Linked DNA regions of Homo sapiens: regions 1 and 2 are each linked to region 3. The links come from fine-mapping of genetic effects on gene expression. A gene starts in region 3. Each other region holds a variant in brackets. All regions are shown on one strand. Distances are between the middles of the regions.

Region 1 (8,146 bases), 170 kb before region 3:
TTGGAATATACACAAGGTTCTAAGGGGCTGAAAGAAGGGTCTATAGAATTCCTTCAGGCGCAGTCTAAGCAGGCGGGGGTCACAGACTTCATAGGGGAAGAGCTCTCTATTGGTAGAACAGCTCACCTAGGAAGGAGGGCAGTACCTTCCTCACCATGAAGTTGTGACAGGTGGGCAGAGTCCCTGTCGGGAGTCAGTGATGCTCCATGTGTCTCCACGTAGATGTTGCTAGGGTTGATCCTAAATCATCCTGATGTCCTATTTCTCAGATATTAATGTGTATACAAATTACCTGGGGACGTTGTTCAAATGTCGATTCTATTTGATAAGTCAAGCAGAGGAGGTGAGGCAAGATTCTGCATTCCTGACATGCCCCCAAATTTACACCAGTGCATTGGTTGCATTCTTAGATCCTTAGACTTGTAGAGTGGCAAGGCTTAGAGCATCCAGCAGGATACTGATCCTTAAACATTACATGGATTCATTCATCCAGCATTAAAATATGTTAATACAAATACAAAATATGTCAATACATAATATAAAATTTACAATTTTAACAATTTTAAGTATAAAGTTCAGTGGCATTAAGAACATTAGCACTGTTGCACAATGTGATTTCCTCTCTTCCCAACATTCTGTTGTTCCCATTTCCCAAGACTGCTCAGCCCTCTTCCACCCATCCTCACATGACCAGATATGCCATGTGTTCTTGTGTTTGCATATCTCAAAACTCTTGCACTGGTTGTCTCTTCTCACAGAATACATGCCATTCTTCCCTTTCTTTTTGTTCTCCACCCAGTGGACTTAACATTTGTGCTTCAAGACCCAAATGAAACCTCAGCGAGAGCTTAGTCTCTTCTTCACCTGTTTCTGTAGCATTCTGTGGTACTAATCTATTTGTACTTTTTGTTCAGTGCTGCTGTCATTACCGGTGTACCTATCTTCCCACCAGTCGGAGGTCCTTGATGGCAGAGCTAATGCCTGGCTCATCTCCGTGTCCTGGAGATGGACAATAGGGCCTGGCTCACTAAAGTGTTATTGGTGGTTGAATGACAGTTGATATTGCTTGTCCTCTCCCTTATATAATACTTAGGGAAAAAATTCCTAGCTTTTGACCTAACTACAGCTTCGATAAGACTGAAAACTGAGTTTGAGAGGACTAGGATAGAAATGGCTAAGAATTTTAAGGGAAGAGCTAATTTCTTCACTTAATTTTTCATCAGTTGTTAACATAAAGTGATTAAATGAGATCTTAGTGCTTCTGTTCTTTTTTCTCCGCTGAAAAGATGAGGAGGGAGAACTGATATGTGCCTAGCACTTACATATACGTATAATAAAGTTATGTTTAATAACAGATTTATCGACTAGCTCTGTGATAATAAAGTATTGGTATGCCCTCCTATAGAAGAAGGCCTTCCCCAGCTAGTAAGTTGTAATTGAATACAAATTCCTCTGACTCCAAAGTCCTTATTCTTTTTATCATGTCATACTGTGTTCTTGTCTAGAATAATTCTACTCTCTTTTCTATAGAAATGTGAATTTGTAAGGAGGTGATTGCTCAGTACATAAAAACGCACCATTAGGTGGTAAGGAAATTTATTTTATTTTATTATTATTTTTTAACAGAGACAGGATTTCACCATGTTGCCCAGGCTGGTCTCGAACTCCTGGGCTCAAGGGATCCTCCTGCCTCAGCCTCCCAAAGTGCTAGGATTTCAGGTGTAAGCCACTACGCCCATCGGATATTTGTTTCCTTTTCTTCTGTTTTGAGATGGAGTTTCGCTCTTTTCGCCCAAACTGGTGTGCAGTTGCGCAATCCTAGCTCACTGCAACTTCTGCCTCCTGGGTTCACGCAATCCTCAGCCTCCTGCATAGCTGGGACTGCAGGCATACACCACCACCCCCAGCTAATTTTTGTGTTTTTAGTAGAGATGGGGTTTTGCCATGTTGGCCAGGCTGGTCTTGAACTCCTGGCCTCAAGTGATCCGCCTGCCTAAGCCTCTCAAAGTGCTGGGATTACAGGCATGAGCCACCATGCCATGTCTGATATTTGTTTTCTAATAAAGAATGGACTTTGGGAGACTGAAGCAGAGGGATCACTTGAGGCCAGAAGTTCGAAACCAGCCTGGGTAACATGGCAAAACCTGTCTCTACTAGAAATACAAAAATTAGCCATGTGTGGTGGCACACACCTGTAATTCCAGCTAGTTGGGAGTCAGGGAGGTGAATCGCTTGAACGTAGTAGGTGGAGGTGGCACACACCTATAATCCCAGCATGTTGGGTGTCAGTCAGAGAATCATTTGAACCTAGGAGGTGGAGATTGCAGCAAGCCAAGATTGCACCATTGCACTCCTGCCTGGGCGACAGTGTCTTGCTCTGTCTCAAAAAAATGGAGTAGATCCTTTGTGTGACCTCTAAACCCAAAGGCTACCACAATCCTCAGAGATAGGTAGAGCAAAATGTTAGTGTAAGGCTGGGCACCGTGGCTCATGCTTGTAATCCCAGCACTTTGGGAGGCTGAGGTGCCAGGATTGCTTGAGCCCAGGAGTTAAGACCAGCCTGGGCAACATAGAGAGACTCCATCTCTAAGAAAAAAAAAAAGTATACCTATTTTACAGAGACATAAACTGAGACTCGGAGAAATTAAATGACTTGCCTAAAGTCATAGGAACTGGTAAAGGCAAAATTGAGACTCATGGCCTTGTCACCAACCCGGTACTCTTTCTGGTTTATAATACTGTATTTTCCTAAGTCCATCAGCTAAATATATTATTTGGTATAATGGAAAATCATTTCCACCAAATGAGGCAAAGTTAAATTTGCAGATTCTGTGTTTTCGATTTTCTCTACCCCTTGCAGCCACAGGAGGAAATTGCTACTAAGAAACTCCGACTAACAAAACCAAGTAAATCTGCAGCACTCCACATAGATCTGTGTAAAGCTACCTCCCCAGCAGATGCTTTGCAATACTTGCTCCAGTTTGCCAGGAAGCCTGTCGAGGCGGAAAGCGTAGAGGGAGTAGTCAGGATTCTCTTGGAACATTATTACAAGGTAAGAAAATCTTGAGGATCTGATGGGAGTATATCATGGGAGTTGTATCATGTCTGCAGAATGGTTAATATTACAAATAAATAGGGTATTCATTAGGAAGCTTTTATTGAGTGTCTTCCAAGTGCTAGGTACTATGGATACCGAGATAAAAAAGATACAGATCTTGACCTCAGAAAGTTATACTGTGTATAGTAGATGGAAACAAGACATGTCAATGATAAGGTGCATCATACTGCTGAAGTTACTGTGAGTGCAGTATGTGCAGAGTACAGTGGAAGCACAAAAGAGGAGT[A/T]AATATCAATCATGACCCATTCATCTCTGGAATGTGGTCCTGCTGTTCCTTTCCTAATTCATGGCCCTCATATCTAATTGCAGTGGCCCTCTTTTTTAATTAAAAATACATTTTTTTTTTTTTTTTTTTGGAGACAGAGTCTCGCTCTGTTGCCCATGCTGGAGTGCAGTAGTGCAATCTTGGCTCGCTGCAACCTCTGCCTCCTGGGTTCAAGCGATTCTCCTGCCTCAGCCTCCTTAGTAGCTGGGATTACAGGCACGTGCCACCACACCCTGCTAATTTTTGTATTTTTAGTAGAGACGGGGTTTTGCCATGTTGGCCAGGCTGGTCTCGAACTCCTGACTTTAAGTGATGCAGCCACCTTGGCCTCCCAAAGTGTTAGGATTACAGGCGTGAGCCACTGCGTCTGGCCAAAAAAACTGTTTTTGAGACAGAGGCTCACTGTCACCCAGCCTAGAGTTTAGTGGCATCATCATAGGTCACTGTAGCCTGGAACTCCTGGGCTTAAGTGATTCTCCTGGCTCAGCCTTCCACGTAGGTGGGACTGCAGACGTGCCACTACTCCAGGCTAAGTTTTGCATTTTTTTTTTTTTTTTTTTTGAGACTTGGTCTGTCACTCAGCCTGGAGTATAGTGGTGGCACAATCTTGGCTCACTGCAACCTCCGTCTCTTTGGTTTAAGTGATTCTCCTGCGTCAGCCTCCAGAGTGGCTAGGACCGCAGGTGTGTGACACCACACCCAGCTAATTTTTTTTGTATTTTTAGTAGAGGTGGGGTTTTGCTGTGTTGGCCAGGCTGGTCTTGTACTCCTGACCTCAAGTGATCCATGCACCCTGGCCTCCCAAAGTGCTGGGATTGCAAGCGTGAGCTACCATTCCCAGCCCAAAAATCATTATTATTATTACTATTATTATTTTTGAGATGGGGTCTTGCTTTCTCGCCCAGGCGGGAGTGCAGTGGTGCTATCACGGCTCACTGTACCCTCGACCTCCGAGGCTCAATTGATCCTCCTGCCTCAGCCTTCTGAGTAGCTGGGACTACAGGCATGTGCAGCATGCCTGGCTAATTTTTGTATTTTTTTTTTTTTTTTGTAGAGACAGGGCTTTGCTATGTTGCACAGGCTGATCTCGAATTCCTGGGCTCAAGCAATCCACCCTCCTTGGGCTTCCAAATTGCTGAGATTACAGGTGTGAACCACCACACTCAGCCCCCAAATTGTTAAGCTTATGGAAAAGTAGATAAAATACTATAGTGACCTACCAAATATCCATTCCTAGAATTTAACAGTTATTAGTATTTTGCCAAATTTGCTCTATTTTTTCGCTGAATTTTATTTTATTTTGTTATTATTTTTTTTGAGATGAGTCTCACTCTGTTGCCCAGGCTGGAGTGTAATAGCACTCCTGGGTTCAAGCAGTTCTCCTGCCTCAGCCTCCCAAGTAGCTGGGACTACAGGAGTGCGCCATCACGCTCAGCTAATTCTGTATTTTTAGTAGAGATGGGGTTTCACCATGTTGGCCAGGCTAGTCTCGAATTCCAGACCTCGGGTGATCCACCTGCCTCGGCCTCCCAAAGTGCTGGGATTACAGGTGTGAGCCACCGCGCCCAGCCTTGTTTTGTTGAATTTTTAAAAAGATATGTCATTTTTTTCTAATTATTTCATTACATATCTATTAAAAAGGGATACCTTTTTGTTGTTTTCTTTTTTTTTCTCACTGCTATGAGAAAGTAGAGGGACTTTTTATTTTTTAACATAGCCACCTAACCCTAATGAATAAAGTTAAGTAATTCTTTAATGTCATCTAAGAATTAGTTGATATTTAGATTTCTGTAGTTGTTCTCCCAGTACCTTTTTATAGTTGATGTATTCAAATCAAAATGCAAACCAGGTCCCCACATGGCATTCAGTCTTTTCAAAAATCTACAACAGTTACTATTTTGGTGACATTGATTTGATGAAGAAACTGAGACAGTTCTTTTGTAAAATGTCTTGTTTTCTGAATTCATTTACTTCTTTAAGGATTAACTTGTTCCTCTGTTCTCTGTATTTACTATGAACTGAAAGTTAGATCTATAGGCTTTGTTAGATTTAAGTTAAGCATATTTTTGACAATTTTAAGACTATGTTATAAATGGTGACTTGTACTTCATATTGCAGCTATCAGCATGCAAATGTCACCGTTACATTGAGGTCTTCCTTTACCCTTCTGTTTCATATCGAAACTGCCTATCCCCACCCCGCACTTCCTAGTCCCCTTCCTTGATTTTGTTTTCTCCATAGTAATTACCATCTTCTAATATTCTGTATAATTTCTTGTTAATTATGTTCCTTGTCCATTTCCCCATGCAGGAACATAAGCTTCCCTTGAGCAGGGATTTTTATGTTTTTTAATTGTTGTTTCTACAGAATCAAGAACAGTGCCTGGTAAAATAAATATTTGTTGAATGAATAAATGAATTAATTGATGCTTTTGTGATACATTTTACTCAACAAATATATATCAGACTTTGTTCTGGGCACTGGACGGTGTCCATTAGCACAATTGTTAAGTCTTATGCGTTGCAATTGTTTGCCATATGTGTCTATCTCCTTCAGACTTTGAGCTCCGTAAATTCAGAGGCTGCAGATCCATTAGTCTCTATCCCAGTGCCTGGCAGGTTCCTAGGAACATTGAAGGGACATTATAAATGTTTCACTTATGTTTTACGTGAATAAAATCAGGCTTTCTTTTTTTGTTGTTCTTTTCTTTAAAAAATTTTTTAAAAAATCGTATCTATCTATCTAGAGACTGGGTTATGAGACTGGCTAATTTTTATATTTTTGATAGAGATGAGGTTTCACCATGTTACCAAGGTTGGTCTCAAACTCCTGGGCTCAAGCGATTCACCTACCTCAGCCTCCCAAAGTGCTGGGATTACAGGCATGAACCACTGTGCCTGGCATCTTTTTGAGTGTTGCTCTGTTGCCCAATCTAGAGTGCAATGGCGTGATCACTGCCCACTGAAGTCTGGACTCCCAGGCTCAAGCCATCCTCCCACCTCAGCCTCCTGAGGAGCTGGGACCACAGGCACATGCCACCACTCCCGGCTAATTTTTTCTTTTTAATTTTTTTTGTAGAGATGGAGTCTCTCTGTGTTGCCCAGGCTGGTCGCGAATTCCTGAGCTCAAGCAACCCTCCTGCTTGGCCCTCCCAAAGGATTGGGATTACAGACGTGAGCTACCACATCTGACCAAAATCAGGATTTCTGTTCTCAAGAAGTTTTCGATCTCTCAGTGATCTATTTTCCGTTAGTCTTTTTCTTAGCAATATCTACCATTATTATTATATTAAAGATCTGTTACCAATAATCATCTATAATAATACTTCTTAGAGCAGTTAACATTATATTGCTTGTTAGAGTTTGAAAGCACTTTCCATATGTAATATTTTATTTAATCCTGGTGACAGCACCATTGTTATCTCTAAATTCCAGATATGGAACTAAGCTTAGAGCTGTTTAGTATCCAAGGTCACCCAGCTAGTAAATGGAAGGTATGGATTTGAACTTGGGTTTTTTTTTTAAAAAACCTTTTGTTATGGAACATTTCAGATATATACTATGTAAGTAAAGAGAATAGTTTAATTAATTCCCATGTACCCATTACCTGGCTTCAAAAATTATCATTTTGTGGCCAAACTTGTTTCATTTTCCCTCTTCCCCAATCCACTTCTACTTCTTTACCCTCACCTTCTCCACCAGATTCTTATGAAAATAAATTCCTGGCATCATATTATTTTAATCATAAATTTTGATTTATATCTTTAAGTGGTGAAGACTCTTTTTTTATTATTATACTTTAGGTTCTAGGGCACATGTGCACAACGTGCAGGTTTGTTACATGTGTATACATGTGCCATGTTGGCTTGCTGCACCCATTAACTCATCATTTACTTTAGGTATTTCTCCTAATGCTATCCCTCCCCCAGCCCCCCACTCCCCAACAGGCCCCGGTGTGTGATGTTTCCCGCCCTGTGTCCAAGTGTTCTCACTGTTCAATTCCCACCTATGAGTGAGAACATGCGGTGTTTGGTTTTCTGTCCTTGTGATAGTTTGCTGAGAAGGATGGTTTTCAGCTTCATCCATTTCCCTGCGAAGGACATGAACGCATCCTTTTTTATGGCTGCATAGTATTCCATGGTGTATATGTGCCACATTTTCTTAATCCAGTCTATCGTTGGTGGACATTTGGGTTACTTCCAAGTCTTTGCTCTTGTGAATAGTGCCGCAATAAACATACGTGCACATGTATCTTTATAGTAGCATGATTTATAATCCTTTGGGTATATACCCAGTAATGGGATTGCTGGGTCAAATGGTATTTCTAGTTCTAGATCCTTGAGGAATTGCCGCACTCTCTTCCACAATGGTTGAACTAATTTACACTCCCAACAGTGTAAAAGTGTTCCTATTTCTCCACATCCTCTCCAGCATCTGTTGTTGCCTGACTTTTTAATGATTGCCATTCTAACTGATGTGAGATGGTATCTCATTGTGGTTTTGATTTGCATTTCTCTGATGACCAGTGATGGTGAGCATTTTTTCATGTGTCTGTTGGCTGCATAAATGTGGCGAAGACTCTTAAAAAACATAATCTTTTGTCATGTCTAAAAGCAAAATTTAACTCAGGTGTTCTGATGTCAGATCTCAAGCACTTTAACCAGTCCATGCTGCATGCATTAATCAAGTGGACCCTAGCTCCTAAGGAAATGAGGAGGGATGCCAGATGGACCCAGTTCTAGATTGTTGACCATAGTGTTTTTT
Region 2 (8,191 bases), 770 kb before region 3:
AAGACTTGGAACCAACCCAAATGCCCATCAGTGATAGACTGGATAAGGAAAATGTGACACATATACACCAGGAATACTATGCAGCCATAAAAAAGGATGAGTTCATGTTCTTTGCAGGGACATGGATGAAGCTGAAAACCATCATTCTCAGCAAACTAACACAGGAACAGAAAACCAAACACCGCATGTTCTCACTCATAAGTGAGAGTTGAACAAGGAGAACACATGGACACAGGGAGGGGAACATCACACACCGGGGCCTGTTTGGGGTGGGGGGTGCTAGGGGAGGGATAGCATTAGGAGAAATACCTAATGTAGATGACAGGTTATGGGTGCAGCAAACCACCATGGCATATGTATTCCTATGTAACAAACCTGCATATTCTGCACATGTATCCCAGAATTTAAAGTATAATTTAAAAAAAAAAAAAAACTTGCAAAGTCAATTCACCAGTCTCTCACCTTGAGGAACTCTTTGGAATCAATAGGAACAGAGTAGCACCAGCCCAGTGTGGCAGTGCAGAGAGGAGCCGGAGAAGATGCCTGCCCTCCCCAGGAAGCCATAGAGGGAGATTTGCTCCAGCTCACAAGTTGAAATTCTTCGTTTTGAGGAATTTAATTATGGCTAACAGCGAGGATTAATTGCTTTATACTGTGTTAGTATAAATAAATACTTTCTTCATTTGCCTTTAAAAAAAAAAAGGAGAGGGAAGATACCGAAGTAAAGACACAGACACACAGTGAGAATGCCAGGTGATGATGGAAGCAGAGATTGGAGGAATGCAGCTGCGGCCCAGGAACGCTGAGGATTGCCAACAACCACCAGAAGCTAGGAAGAGCCAAGCAAGGTTTCCTGCTGACGTGTCTCACAGGGAGCATGGCCCTAACTTGATTTTGTACTTCTAGCCGACAGACCTGTAAAACAATACATTTCTGTTGTTTTCAGCTCTTTCTCTTTGCCTAATTCGTTATGGCAGCCCTAGCAAATTAATATGGTACTAGAGGCCTAATGTATGTATTTTGTGTGTGTGTGTGTGTGTGTGTGTGTGTGTGTGTGTGTTGGGGGTGGGGGGAGTAAGTGTCCTTTAACTGCAGAAGAAACAGAACAAATCAGGTAGACAGGAAGAAAACAAGGCAACCTTTCTTAATCATCTAAACCAAGAAGTGTCATGTTTTCCTGTGGACCTGACCTTCCCAATCACTGCTCCAGCACAGACTCCTGGCTGTGGCTGGAACACCCCAGCTGTGTTTCCTCCTTAGGGCCTTTGCACCCACTGCTTCCTCTACCTGGAACATGCCCAGGGCCAACTCCTGACTTCCTGCTTTTTCCTCAATGAAGCCCATTCTGCAATCTGCACTCCCACCCCACTGAGCACTCCCAACCCCCCTTGCTCTACTTTACTTTTTCTTTTCTCCATGTTCTCAGTGGATTCTAATATCCTAATAATGTGTTTATTATGTGTAGGGAGCATTATTTATCGTCTCCATCCATGCTAGAACATTAAGCTCCATGCAGCGATGTGAACAAACATCAAAAACAGTACCTAGTTCACTGTAGGTGCTTAAGAAAAAATTTTCTAAAAATCCATCATTCATTTTAAAATGACTACTTTAACGATTACAGAAGCTGTATGTGTTCATTGTAAAAAAAAATTAGAAAAAATTAAAAGCTTCAAACTCCCACCATCTAATAAAACCTCTCAAATTAAAAAAAAAAATGTTTTAGAAAAGGAGCAAAAGGAAGCAAAGTACACTTGGAAGAGGGACAAGCGGGCAACTTGAGAGATCCAAGTACCCCATTTGGTCCTTGACTTGGGGTTTTATACGTTGGCATGGTTTGGGGGCTTTACTTTCTCCTCCCTTAATTTTTCCCTTGGGGTGGGCTGTTGTTCAACCGCTGCATGCGAGGTGTCAGTCAGCACTCAAGGGGGTGACCACATGCATAGTGCATTTACTGAGGTTGTGCACATGCTCTGTAGGGGCGATTTTATTTTACCAGTCTAACACCCCCAAAGGAAGGTCATACATCTGATATTTTGCCGGTTAGAGCACATACTCAAGCCCACTTGCCCAACTCCTGAGATCTTATGTGGAAGCTGCTGATCACCAGCTCAAGATGTTTTCTATCTTTTGGGAGACGGTCGTCCGCTGATGCCAGCTGTGACCAATTATCATTTTAGAGAGACAGTTTAACAACCGCCTGACGATCACGTGATGGTCGCCTGACATTCCTGGGGGTTGGTTAGGGGGCCTCTCCTGACCTGCTCACGTCTGCCTCGCTAACTACTCTAACAACCAGAGGTCACAGAAGTCTTCTTTGTTGATTGCTGTGGCATGAAAGCAGAGGAAAAAAAAATGTTTTTTCCTCCATGTCAACCAACTCGCATAAAATAGCCTGTTAAATAGTCCTTCCATCATGGCCACTAACTTCCAAGAGAAATTCCTAATGCTGCCTAATAATCATAACACATTTCTCCAGTTTGTTCACTCTTCTACCCTCCTAGATAATACTTTCATGGCTTTTCTCTCTTTCAATCATTTACATCTTTCTCCATCCTCACTCTTAGTGATAAACCCTCCCTTTAATGATTCTTCCTAGAATGCAGCTGCCTAATGAGTTCTTATTGCCCACTGCCCAGATAGAGTCAATTTACCAAGGCAAGGGAATTGCAGTGGAGAAAGAATTTAATTCATGAAGAGCTGGCTGAATGGGGGACTGGAGTTTTATTATTACCCAAATCAGTCTTCCCAAGAATTCAGAGGCTAGGGTTTTTCAAAGGTAGAAGGGGTGAGGGTGGCTGCTGATTGGCTCAGGGGTACAATCATAGGCGTGTCAGGAATGACCCTCCAGCATGCTAAGTGGCTTCTGGGTGGGACAGGAGCAGTGGGTAGGTCCAGATGGAGCCACCATTGGTCTGTGGATCCTGATGGGGTCACACGTGTCAGACATGCAGGAAACCTGAGAGGATATTTCAAAAGGCCAATCTTAGGTTCTACAATAGTGACGTTATCTGCAGGAGCAACTGGGGAGGTTGCAAATCTCATGACCTCTGGAATAATGGCTGGCAGTCATTTATGTCTACACCTTAGTAAAATTCAGGGTCCTCTATCCTCCTAGCCTGGTGACCTCTCAGCTTTATAAAGGTGGTTGAGTTTTGGGGGAAGGGTTATTTTCACTTAAACTTTAAACTAGATGTCTCCCAAAGCCAGCCCAGGAATAATCAAAGGCAGCCCAAAGGCTAAAATAAAGGCAAGACGGGGGTTGACTAGATCAGATCTCCCCCATTGACATAATTTTCTCTCTGATACAATTTTGTAAAGACAGTTTCAAGAAATTACACAAACCACTTGTGCTATATTCTATTTACCAGAACACAGTTGACTGTTACATGACCACACCTACCTGCAACGGAAGCTGAGAAATGTCTTTGTGGGGGGTGGGGGAGGGACATGTACCCAGCTACAATTCTGGGCTTCTGTTATTAAAAGGAGGAAAATGGATATTGGATAATACTAGTACATTTTACTCTAATGAATTTAAAATATTGTTTTCTGAGTCCAGGGGCATCACTTCAAAACTGTGACCCATAA[G/A]CCTCAGATGGGCCCCAATTCTGCCTGGCAATCTTTCTCTAGTCCATTAACTCTCCCACTCTCCTAAATGATCCAAATAATTCTTTCATAATCTTTTTCCTCTTTTCAAAACTCTAACATCTACTTTGCCATTCTCTCTCTCTCTCGTGTGTGTGTCTGTCCATCCGTCTTTCTCTACAGAAAACCTTCCTTCCTATTTCATTGTGAAATAGAAGCAAATTAAAGAGGATGTCTCTACAAGTTCCCACTATCATATATACCCCCACATACCCATCAATCTTCATGTGCGCCCATGTCCTCTACCTTCTCTGTGCTAATATAAAGTGCTCATGATGTTATCAGCTAAGGCTAGTCCTCCACTTGAACACTAGATCACACCCCCTTTCACCAATTCAAACTCATCAACACTAGGAATTTTCTTCTGTCTTTCCTGTGTCAAGTTTTCCTCTCTTCTAGATCTTTCCCTTCCGGTTTCTGGTCTAGCAAGTAAGGAGCTTGGAAGTCATCACTCCTGTCTTCACAACAATAAAAAAGCTAAATAAACTGAAAATCAGTTGAAGTAACAGGGCACACTTCTGTCCCCCAAACTGGAGAGACAAATGGGTAAATACAGAGAATCACAACTTACTGGAATAGAAGCCCAGGGGCAGAAAACTCTGCAAGAACGAGTACTGGGGAACGAAAAACCCAAACTATAATAGATGAATTGCTGGAGGCTCTGTGTGGACAAGTTTGAAAGTTAAAAACTCCAGGGCATGTGGCCAGTCATACTGGATTTTACCTCCACTTTCGTGAGTTTTACCTCCAAGAACCCTACCAGGTTCTCAGGGTGAAGATCAGCAAAAAAAAAAAAAACAAAAAAAAAATCCTCATGCTTCTGGCAAGAGGAGGGGAAAAATAGCCATTCGAAATATGCCAAAGTGTCCAGCTCTTCTTAACAAAGCCTGCTCTCAATGGAAACTATGTTATCAGAGGCTAGCTGACTGGATTTTACCAGAGACTAATCACAGGAGAAGGAAAATACCCAACTCCAGCCCCTTTTTGCCAACTAAAGCGGGAAAGAACTGAGAAGCGCTTGTGAAAGGTGCAGCCCAGGAGCACAGGCTCGCTAAAGTCTAAGACCTAATCACAGGTCTATAGAATTCTTCCTCTCTCTCCACACCTCACCACTATATCAACAGGACTTATCTGTATGATAATAAGGGAGTACAACAGAAATAACTGCATGTTATTTCTGAGACCTCCCAAGAAGTCTCTAGGGAAATCCAAAGATAACAGGTGAGACAAAAACAAGGACACCGGAGGAAATTTTTGCCTCTGACTCCCACAGCTACAACAAACAGTAAACACAGCCTAACTTCTAACTAGATAAATAAGATAAATATACAACTTCCCACTGAAGACTTATTTACAGGCCGGGTGTGGTGGCTCACACCTGTAATCCTAGCACTTTGGGAGGCCAAGGAGGGTGGATCACTTGAGGTCAGGAGTTTGAGACCAGCCTGGCCAACATGGTGAAATCCCATCTCTACTAAAAATACAAAAATTAGCCCAGGTGTGATGGCTCGTGCCTGTAGTTCCAGCTACTTGGGAGACTGAGGCTGGAGAATCACCTGAACCCAGGAGGCGGAGGTTGCAGTGTGCCGAGATCACGCCTCTGCGCTTCGGCCTGGGTAACAGACCGAGACTCCATCTCAAAATAAATAAATAAATAAATGAAAATAAAGATGTATTTACCTCAGTTCCTTTTATCCACTACATTGTGTCCAACTTTCAACAAAAAAATTAAAGATAAAGATTAAAAAAAATAAAATTACAAGATAAACTAAAAGACAAAAAAAAAAACACAGTTTGAAGAGACAGAGCAAGCATTAGAATCAGACTCAGATATGGCAGAGATGTTAGAATTATTAGACCAGGAATTTAAAACAATGGTGATTAATATGCTAAGGGCTCTAATGGAAAAATCAGATCTTTCTTATCACCAGACAAACATGCTATTATTTCTCACATATTAAAGAAGTCCGCTTTCATGACCACATTCTTCCACCAGTTACCACCTCAGTTTTTCTGCTCCCCTTACAACAAAACTTCTTGAAAACCCTGTCTCCAATTTCTCTTCTCCCATTCTTTTTTACATACCATTTTTATTATAGAAAAATCTCCAACATGAATAGTACAATGAATTCCTGTGTATGTTACCCAACTTCAATATTTTTCAACATTTTACCAGTCCTATTTCATCTATTCCATCTATACTGTTTTATTTTTTTTCTGAAATATCTAAAACCAAATTCTAGATATCACATTTCACCCATAAATTCTTTAGGATTGTATCTTTAACAGCGAAGAATTTTGTGCATAATTCCTCAATATCAACTAATATTAGGAATTAAAGGACGTCATTACAGATCCTACAGACACTGAAAGAATAATATGAACAATTTTATGCCAAGAAATTTAGCTGCTTAGATAAATTTCTCAAAACATACAACTTACAAAAACTGACGGAAAAAGAAATACAAAATCTGCACAACATCATATTTATTAAACATGTTAAATCTGTAATTCAAAACCGTCTCATAGGCCGAGTGCAGTGGCCCATGCCTATAATCTCAGAACTCTGGAAGACTGAGGAGAGGGGATTGCTTGAGCCCAGAAGTTCAAGACCAGCATGGGGAACATAGCAAGACCTTGTCTCTAAAATAATTAATTAATTTAATTTAATTTAACTTTCTCATGAAGGAAGCTCTAGGCCCACATGACTACACAATGAATTATATTCAAACACTTAAAAAGGAAATAATATCAATCTTAGAGAAACTCAAAAAATAATACTCTGTGCTGTTGAACTATTTTTATGTCTTTAAAAAATATATCTTTTCTCTGTTGACTTAAGTCATAATCCAAGTAAGCATTCATGCATTACATTTGATTGCTATGTGTTTTATTTTTCCTTTAATCCATAATGTCTCCTCTCTTTTTTTTGAGATGGAGTCTCGCTCTGTCGCCCAGGCTGGAGTGCAGTGGCATGATCTTGGCTCACTGTAACCTCCGTCTCCTGGGTTCAAGCGATTCTCCCACCTCAGCCTTGCAAGTAGCTGGAATCACAGGCACGTGCCACCATGCCCAGCTAATTTTTGTATTTTTAGTAGAGATGGGGTATCACCATCTTGGCCAGGCTGGTCTAGAACTCCTGACCTCAAGTGATTCACCGGCCTTGGCCTCACAAAGTGCTGGGATTACAGGCGTGAGCCACCACGCCCAGCCTCTCTTAGCCATTTTCAAGTACACAGTACATTATTATTAGCTGTAGTCACCATTTTTACAATAGATCACCCGAACTTACTTGTGTCTAACTAAAACTTTGTACCTTTTTATCAGCATCTCCCCATTCCTCATAACCAGACCCTGGTAATCACCATTCTACTCTCTGCATCTCAGATTGACTGTTTTTAGAGTCATAAGACCATGCAATATTTGTCTTTCTACGCCTTGCTTATTTCACGTAGCATAATGTTTTCCAGGTTCATTCATGTTGTCACAAATGACAGGATTTCCTTCTTTTAAAGAGCTGAATAGTATTCCATTGTGTGCATGTACATTTTCTTTATCCATTAATCTGTTAATGAACATTTAGATTGATTCCGTGTCTTGGCTATTGTAAATAACGCTTCATTGAACATAGGAGTGCAGATATGTCTTTCATATACTGTTTTCATTTTCTTTGGATATATACTCAGAAGTAGAATTGTTGAAGCATATGATAATAGTTCTATTTTTAATTTTTTGAAGAGGAATCTTCATACTGGTTTTCCATAATGACTGTATTAATTTACATTCCCACCAGCAATGTATAAGAGTTCCTTTTCTCTGTATCCTCTCCAAACTTGTCTTTCATCTTTCTGATAGTAGTTCTTCTAACAGGTGTGAGGTGATATTTAATTAATTTGCATGTCCCTGATGATTAGGAATGTTGAACATTTTTTCATATATATATTGACTATTTTGTGTCTTCTTTAGAGACGTCTCTATTGAGGTACTTTGCCCATTTTAAAATCTGGTTGTTTTTTCGCAATTGAATTGTTTGAGTTCCTTATATATTATGGCTATTAGCCCCATATCAGATGTATGGTTTGCAAATACTTTCTCCCACTCTTTTGGTTGTCTCTTCACTCTGTTACTTGTTTCCTGTGCTGTGTAGCTTTTTAGTTTCATGCAATTCGATTTGTGTACCCATCCTTTTGTTGCCTGTGCTTTTGGGGCTATATTTTTAAAATCTTTGCCAACACCAATGTCAAAAAGCTATTTCCCTATGTTTTCTTCTAGTAGTTTACAGTTTCAGGTCTCAAATTTAAGTTTTTAATCTATTTGGAGTTGATTTTTGTATATGGGGTGAGATAAGGGTCCAATTTGATTCTTCTGCATGTGAATATCCAGTTTTCCCAGCACCATTTATTGAAGAGATTTTCCCTTCCCCACGGGATGTTTTTGGTATCTTCATCAAAGATCAATTGACCATAAATAGGTGGATTTATTTCCGGGTTTTCTATTCTGTTCCATTGGACATTTTTATATTTTTAAAGAGTTGTTAAAACAC
Region 3 (8,189 bases):
TCTTCATGGCAGTAGCAATAAATCAAATACAGGTTTTAAAAATAGCTACTCTTTTTTGCACCTTTACATTCCAGTCTGATAAATATAACTCACTTATATAACTACATAAATTGTCGTTAAGCTCTGTATTCCACAATTTCTCTTAGCCCAGGAAAGCAAGAAGTGATGATAGCATTATGGGTGTGTGTCATTTATTTTCAAGAACAGACTTTAGTGAAGGAAGGCATGCTTAAACCTTGCTTTGTAGCAAAACACTTCTTATCTTTGGGTGGATATAACTTTCTGATGCCAAAGGACTCTGTTTCCCTGCCGATCTAGATTAGAAAAGGCAGAAACTCTAACCTTTATTTATCAGTCTGTTTGACTAACAGTGTGAGCAGTGAGAAAAGAAAACTATAGTAATAAAGCTTTTTTTTTTTTTTAGAATGTTATTTCACAACCTCACTGGAATGTGGGAAGTGAAGTGCTGCAAAAGCTAGAAGCAAAGATAGAAAGTACAGGCAAGGTTCACATAATAAATCTTCCTTTTAGGTTTGAAGGTTCTTTCCATAGAAATTCCTTCACAAAGATACAATTTTATTTTAAAATATCCTGTACCTGGCTTTTATTTAAGGTCAGTTAAGTAACCAGTATATGAAAGTCTTTGTATGTTTCCACAAAACTGTTGTTAAAACTGTATTCTGGGTCAAATTATTCTTTTTTTTTTTTTTTTTTTTTGAGACAGGGTGTAGTTCTGTCGCCCAGGCTGGAGTGCAGTGGCAACTACATGGGATTACAGATGAGGTCTCACTACCTTGCCCAGGCTGGTCTCGAACTCCTTGGCTCAAGGGGTCCTCCTGCTCGGCCTCCCAGAGTGCTTGGATTACAGGCATGAGCCACCCCACCTCGCCCAGATTATTTTTAAACTGGAGTCTTCAGGTCCCCAGGGTCAAGAGATATACACTTGCCCGTTTGGGAATTCTATAAAAATGTTTTAGTTTAGTTTTGTGTTTCATTTCAGTAATTGCTTAAAAACAATATTTTCCGACTTATTAAATTAAAACTTCTTTGGCAGTGATAATTCATAACCATAAAGATATTTTCCTGAAGTAGGATTTTAATTTCTTTTTTTTTTTTTTTTTTTTGAGACGGAGTCTTGCTCTGTCGCCCAGGCTGGAGTGCAGTGGCACAACCTTGGCTCACTGCAAGCTCCGCCTCCCGGGTCCATGCCATTCTCCTGCCTCAGCCTCCCGAGTAGCTGTCTACAGGGGCCCGCCGCCACCACGCCCGGCTAATTTTTTGTATTTTTAGTAGAGACGGGTTTCACCGCGTTAGCCAGGATGGTCTTGATCTCCTGACCTCGTGACCCGCCCGTCTCGACCTCCCAAAGTGCTGGGATTACAGGCGTGAGCCACAGCGCCCGGCGGATTTTAATTTCTTAAAAGCTTTTTTATTGTCGTAAAATACATGTAACATAAAATATGCCATTTTAACCACTTTAAGTGTATACTTCAGTGGCATTAAGTACATTTACAGTGTTCTTTAGACTTTGATTTCTTACATCAGTATTTCTTACAGTGAAATTTTCAAAAGTATTTGCCAAGTTTCAAAAGAACTTTTTTCCTTTAAAAACGGTTTGTATACCACTCAAGACTATGAATCACTATTCAAGGCAATAAATTCTTCTTACAATATAGAATTTTTCTCTTGATAAATTGAGTATTCTTTCTTTAGATAATGGGAATAATACACACCCTTATGGTTTTTCCCCTTTTTAAAACCTGGAAATGAAGAAAAAAATTCGGTGTTTGTGTGACCATTTTCCCTGTTACTCATATAATTATTTGCCCATCTATTTCTTATCTTTCTATAATTACAGATTTCTCTTTTTTACATGGTTTGTGTTGTACCTTGCTTCAAATTCTTTTTTTTTTTTTTTTTTTTTGAGGTGGAGTCTTGCTCTGTCGCTCAGGCTGGAGTGCAGTGGCGCGACCTCGACTCACTGCAACCTTCGCCTCCCCGGTTCAAGGGGTTCTCCTGCATCAGCCTCCCAAGGATTCCCGGCTAATTTTCGTTATTTTTACTAGAGACGGGGTTTCACCATGTTGCCCAGGCTGGTCTGGAACTGCAGAGCTCAGGTGATGCACCCACCTCGGTTTCCCAAAGTGTTGGGATTACAGGCATGAGCCACCGCGCCCGGCCAAATTCTTTTTAGGAATTAGGTACTACATTGAGTTTTAAATGCACTCAGAAAATTCTCAAAGTAATAAATTATAGACTAAATAAATATAGCGGAATTCAGTCTAAATTATAGGAACTCCTTTTTTGATAACTAATATTTTTAAAGTACTCACTATGTGCTACGGCACTGTGCTAATCACTTTACTGTGATTTATCTAGTAATACCGTATGATGTAGGTACTATTATCACCCCACTCTAAGGAGTTCAAAGAAATAAAGAAACCTCCACAGTGTCATGAAGTAGCCCCGCTAGGACTCAGGCCTGGCTGAATCCAAAGCTCAGGCTTCTAAGCATAACGTGTACTGCTGCTTCTCAGGCTGCACATTCTATTTTACATTATTGGTAGTTTCTCTCTGGCGTTCTTTGTGGGAATGTTCACTGCCCCCGCCCCGCCCCGAAGTGGAACCCTGTCTTCTAACAAACTTTTCGCTGCTCCACCGTCTCCTGTCATGTTCCGCCTCTCAATGGAGTCCCAGCCCACACTCCGATTCTGGTCCCTGAACAGAGCCCCTTCCCCTCACACCATGGCCCCCTAGCAGAGCCTGGTCTCCTCAGATCCTCTTCTCCCAGCAGGGCCCCAACTCCTCACTCCGACGATTCCCCCAGAGTTCCGTTCCCTCAGATCCTGCTTTTCCAGCAAAGCTGCGATTCCTGTACCCCAGCAGAGAGCAATACCCCGTCGGCAAACTTCCACAGAGACATCTTACCGAGGTCCCAGCCCAGCCCCTAATTAAGGGCACACCTCTACCTTTCCCCTTCCCAACCTTCTCCCACAACTGTGCTTTCCCCCGCCCTATTCCCTTTTTCTGTTTATTAATTCTCCTCAACCTCTCCACCATCTCGTGGCCCAGTTTCAGGATTCCCCCGCAAACTCACCCACCGCACTGTCTCCTCAAAGTTGCGTTCCCAAACGGCGCAGTGCTCTGCCCGCACTTACGCTCCCAGCGCTGCTTCGGGATCTGCGCTCCCCAACTGCCCTCCGGGAATACGCCCTGCAGTTGAACAGCGCCCGAGGCCCCGCCCCCTCTGCGTCCATTGGCCATTGTTCTCGAGAAGTCCCGCCCCTCCCGCTTCCAGCCCGCCTCCCCGCCCCGCTTCCCTTGTTTTCATTCCCCCTGTCACACGAGGCAGTGGCAAGCCCGAAGGGGAGGAGAGAAGGGGGCGGAAAGAGGGCGGAAAGTGAAAGGCGCCGAGGGCCGCTCTGTCTCCCGTCTGACTCGGTTCTCGACTGCTCCGGGCCGCCGATGTATTGTGGGATCGCGGAGCCGTCCCTGAGACGCTGGGATCCGCAGAGGAGCCCACTTGAGAGCGCCTCCTGTCGTCTGTAAGGTTGCCTTGCCATCCCTCGGCACCACAACTTCCCCCGCCCCCCCATCGCCTCCTCCTCCATCCTCCAGTTCAAAATGGCGACGGCGGCGGCAGCGGCGGCGGTGATGGCTCCTCCGGGCTGCCCGGGTTCGTGCCCCAACTTCGCCGTAGTCTGCTCCTTCTTGGAGCGCTACGGGCCGCTGCTAGACCTGCCTGAGTTGCCGTTCCCTGAGCTGGAGCGGGTGCTGCAGGCGCCGCCGCCGGACGTCGGCAACGGAGAAGGTAAGCGAGGGGCCCGAACGCCCGGCGGGAAGCGGCCCTGGCGCTCTGCTACTCTCCGCTCTTCACAGGCGCCCCGGTTCTTCGCGGCTCGGGCCTCCGCGGCTCTGTCTTCCCCCTGGGACGCAACTCCGCCGGGCTGGTCTTCTCCGCCCAGCCCCCGGGGTCTTGGGCAGTGGGGAGGCGGGGCGGAGGCCCCCTAGGGCCACTCGGCCGGGCGGGGAGCTGAGGTGGAGGCGTTGCGGGCTAGGTGTGGGCTGGAGGCGGGGAGGGGTCATTGTGCCGGTCGGCAGCCCCGGGGACTGCTTCTCCGCGGCGGAGGGCGGCCCCCCACCCCGTCTCCCCCTTGGCGGCGGGGGAAGGGGAGCGCAGGTTCCGGCCAGCTTTGCGCTTTTCTCCTCCTCCCCACCCTTACTCCCTCCCCTCCTCCCACCAGTCTTCCCGACCATCTCGGGGAAGGCTGGGCTCGGCTGCTCCGGACACCTCCTTATCTCCCTTCACCTGGGTGGGCGGGGGCCAGCGGACACTCAACTCTCCCTCCCTCTGTTGGGAACTCCCCTGAGAGATTTGTCCCTTTTCCCTTCCCCTCGAGGGCTGCTTTAACCCCTAAAACTCCTTCCTTGAAGTGGGGAGGTCTGCTCCTCCCCCACGGGAGGGGGTTCTTCTCCATTCTCGGTAGGGGGGCGAAGTCGGTTCAGCTCCACTGTGGAGAGGAGAGGGTTAATTCCTCCTCCATAGTTCTCCTTCCTCTCCCCACCTCCCCCAAAATAATAGGCGAGCATCTCCCCACTTTTCCAATCCCTTCCCCCTTCATCTTGGCAGCCGGGCTTAGGCGAAGAAGTCGTCTCCCTCCCATTTGCACGGTAGGGTGGGGTGGTTAGTATGTAAGCTGGAGGAGGGGCTCTGACGGAGGGGGAAACAGTTGAAGAAGGTGCTTGTTGCTCATGTTTCTCTCTCTGGTGCCGCTGGTCTATTATTGGTGTTCGCAAGTGGTGCTCCTTCCACATAAGGCCACCGCGCGGGTGCAGGGCGCATGCTCTGCCCGGCCCCATTGAAACTTCCTGCTGCTGCTGCTGGTTCTTTTGCTGGAGCATCTCAGCGCTGCGCCTGCTGCCTCCAGCCTTCACACTGAGTGCTTATACTCACCCCCATTTATTCCCGATCCCTGCCTCTCCTTTTCTGGCACTTTTCTTTCCTCAGAGAAGGCTTTTTTGTTATACTCTGAGCATTGCCTTTATCTGGAAACAGCCCTTGGCTGGAGAAGAAACGTTTTCCAAATAGGTCTCTTTTTTTGTCCATATTAGCTGGCCAAAGTGGATTGGTTATTGTACAAGACAGATAGCTGTTTCCTTTCCAAGAAAGCAGGGTCGCTCTTCTATTCTCTATGTAAATGAAGAAGTTTCTGTTAACTGAATTTATTTGCATTGCTAGGAAGCGCCAAGTATGAAGTTCTTCAGAATATTACCTATAAAGAATCTGTATGATGTTATGGCTACCGAAGACTCAAATTAATACAGCAGTTATAATATAAGCCTAGTAATCTGTTCTTACCTGTCCACATTCCCTCTACCTGTAACAAACTGGCTTACAAAAGGCTAATTTAAAAAATAGTACAAAATAGGAGGGTGACTAATTACATTATATAAAGGCTTCTCACAGAATTTGTTTAAAAATTAAGCTCCCATTGTAGTAATTTCATTATCAAATTGTATTTACATTCTTTTTTATATTTTTTATTTTTATTTGTTTTTTGAGACGGAGTCTCACTCTGTTGCCCAGGCAGGAATGCAGTGGCAGGATCTGGGCTCACTGCTACCTCCGCCTCCCAGGTTCAAGCGATTCTCCTGCCCCAGCCTCCCGAGTAGCTGGGATTACAGGTGTGCACCACCGAGCCCGGCTAATTTTTGTATTTTTAGTAGAGACGGGGTTTCACCATGTTTGCCAGGCTGATCTCGAACTCCTGACCTCGTGATCCACACACCTTGGCCTCCCAAAGTGCTTTACAGGCGTGAGCCACCAAGCCTGGCCCGTTTTTTAATTTTTAAGAAGGTAGTCATTGTGAAGTAGGATGCCTTAGTAAGTTGCTTTTAGGATGCCTTGGGAAGTGATAGTAATGTATCTCTCAGAGAACGAACTGTGGGCATTTGGGGAAAGGATGGCTAGTAAATTGTTTTGGTAATTTCTTTGGACCAAGTTGAAATGCATAGGTTTTCTGGGATGGCGTGGTATTTTGGGTAGTATATGAGATTGCTTGAATCTACATTTATTTTAGGTATTTTGACCAGTGCATTTAGTTTATATTAATATCACAGGAATACAATATTAGAGTCAGTTGAATTGAATAGTGGTTCACTAAGTAAGTAAAAATGACAGGTAACCTGGGCTAAGAAGGATCATTTATTTCAGCCACTGCATTACCGTTGGTATAGAGTTGCTAAGGGGACTGATAATAATAGATCCTATCATAAGGTGATCTTAGAATAATTATTAATTAATGTTACACAGTTCAGAACACTTGGCAAATGAGAAGTCTCTGCAGGTGAAATGCTGTTACTGTGCAGGGAAACGATTTTCAGAACTTTGATGATGAACCATGATATCATCATCAAAGTTGGCTTGTTGGGTGAACCTCTGTCGTTTTATCAGCTATTACAAACTTTCAGCCTGTTTCAAATAGCTGATAAAATGATAGTGGCTCAGCCAACAAGATTTGAACTGAGTCTTTTTGGGAAAGAGTTGTAGTGTACAAGAGTTAAAAGACATGGATTTAGTTCCTTGCAACTGTTCTCTGAAGTTGATAGTATTATTCCTATTTGGCAGGCATAGAAACTAAGGCTCAATAGATTAAGGTGCTTAAGAGTCTATAGTTAATGGTAGAATATGATTTCCAACCCAAGTCTGAGTCCAAAGCCACAAAATTATATACCTTGCCATAGTATCATGGTTTCCAAACTGCACCAAGGCACCCTAGAGCATTGTTGCCAACTCCATCTGATAGTTTAAATTTTCAAGTAGGATACAGTGGTAGCCGAAATTTGCTGGTTGCCAGGTGAGCTACTGCCTTGACATACTTCATGGTTTCAAGGTTGTGCCACATTTCTATAGATGATATGTCTTTGTGAAGCTGGTTTTTTAGCGGTTGCTGTGGTAAAATTCACAAAAAAGTCAGTATGCAGCAGGAAAGAGGATAGCAGGGTCCACTCTGATTCCAAGGTTTGAAAAGTTGTGCAGTGCCCAACAGTAATACACATTTCACAAGTAATTATGGTTAAGAATGAAGTAAAAACATTATTTGTTGAAATTTAGCTAGGTTATTTTTTCACATGGCTACTGACTACTTAATAAGTGGAAGTGTTATTATTTCTGGCCTAGGGCTGCTGTGAGAAAATTACTGAGATACTGAGGGTGCCGTGAAGCTAGAATGTTTGAGAACCTTTGCTCTAGAAACTATCATTGAATTTCGGGGCAAGAAAGAAGGGACTATTGTGTCATTGCCTTTATTTTTCAGGAGGAAAATCAAGCTACAGAGAGAGATTTCAAGTGTATACAGCTAACTGTTGGTGTTAGTCAAATTCTTATTTGAAAAGCCCACATATATGCTGAAATTGTCAACAAAAAATTTAGATTTATAGTTGATACTAGTTATAAAAGGATGTGCCAAATGAAGGTGGTGTTTTATCCTCCTCTCCCTGCAGTCTACTTTAGTCCTCCCAATTCTGTGCTTTGTGTGGACTTCCCCAGGTTTCTCCTAACTGGAGGTAGATGATGGTGGTTATGGATAAAGTTGACGTTGACTTTGTGAGATCCCTGACACCCAAGGCTCCTAAGTATCTTTCCTCTCCTGCAGAGAATATTTCTTTTCAAGAGGAAACTATACTACTGTATTCTTTAAAAACAGTCTGGATATTGGTTGAGATGTTACATATATCTAATAAATTTATTAAGGTAAATACAGATAATGTGTTAGGATTCTCATAGTTTATACTATGGTTGGCTGAATTAGTTGTATGATATTAAGTAAGTTGAGCCATTAGTTTTTTGTTTCATTTTTGCATTTAATGATTTGAATTTTAACTCGAAGTGAAAATATCAAAGTTAAAAAAATGCCTTTTTAACTGGAATTGTAACTATAACTTACTATGGTCTCTCTTACTGGTACTGTAACTGATCTGTGTGTAACAATATATTTTTAGGTGCATTTGATAAAGTGGAAAGGTGATTACTGTAACTGGGGCCACATGTGTTGATTTAAACAAAAGATTTTACCAGGTGCATGTACTAGAGGTTGCATGAGTCTACAGTGGTAGACACTGGTAGGGCATACATACATTAATAGTAGTATTGCTGGGGCCAGAGCCTGGTTAGGTTGAAACTTTTTAGT

Evidence for each region. PIP is the estimated chance that this variant, and not a neighbour inherited with it, causes the effect.
Region 1: its variant is fine-mapped to the expression of AAMDC in blood mononuclear cells (TOPMed, PIP above 0.99).
Region 2: its variant is fine-mapped to the expression of AAMDC in tibial artery (GTEx, PIP 0.99).

The regions. Positions count from the first base shown.
Region 1 is chr11:77,986,014-77,994,159 of GRCh38, reverse strand. INTS4 (integrator complex subunit 4) reads left to right here. Exons shown (of 23, transcript NM_033547.4): 2 at 2,861-3,052. Among named protein-coding and RNA genes, the nearest start is that of INTS4, 4.6 kb to the left of the region's middle. The variant A/T (reference allele first, on the strand shown) is at 3,345.
Region 2 is chr11:78,589,677-78,597,867 of GRCh38, reverse strand. No RefSeq gene overlaps it. Among named protein-coding and RNA genes, the nearest start is that of NARS2, 19 kb to the right of the region's middle. The variant G/A (reference allele first, on the strand shown) is at 3,592.
Region 3 is chr11:77,816,150-77,824,338 of GRCh38, reverse strand. It overlaps AAMDC (adipogenesis associated Mth938 domain containing), which reads right to left and starts at 3,195. Exons shown (of 4, transcript NM_024684.4): 1 at 3,098-3,195. It overlaps RSF1 (remodeling and spacing factor 1), which reads left to right and starts at 3,617. Exons shown (of 16, transcript NM_016578.4): 1 at 3,617-3,811. The coding sequence starts at 3,625. RefSeq lists silencers at 3,158-3,317, 3,908-3,997, 4,138-4,227 and enhancers at 3,418-3,557, 3,568-3,737, 3,290-4,262, 4,858-4,967, 4,263-5,236.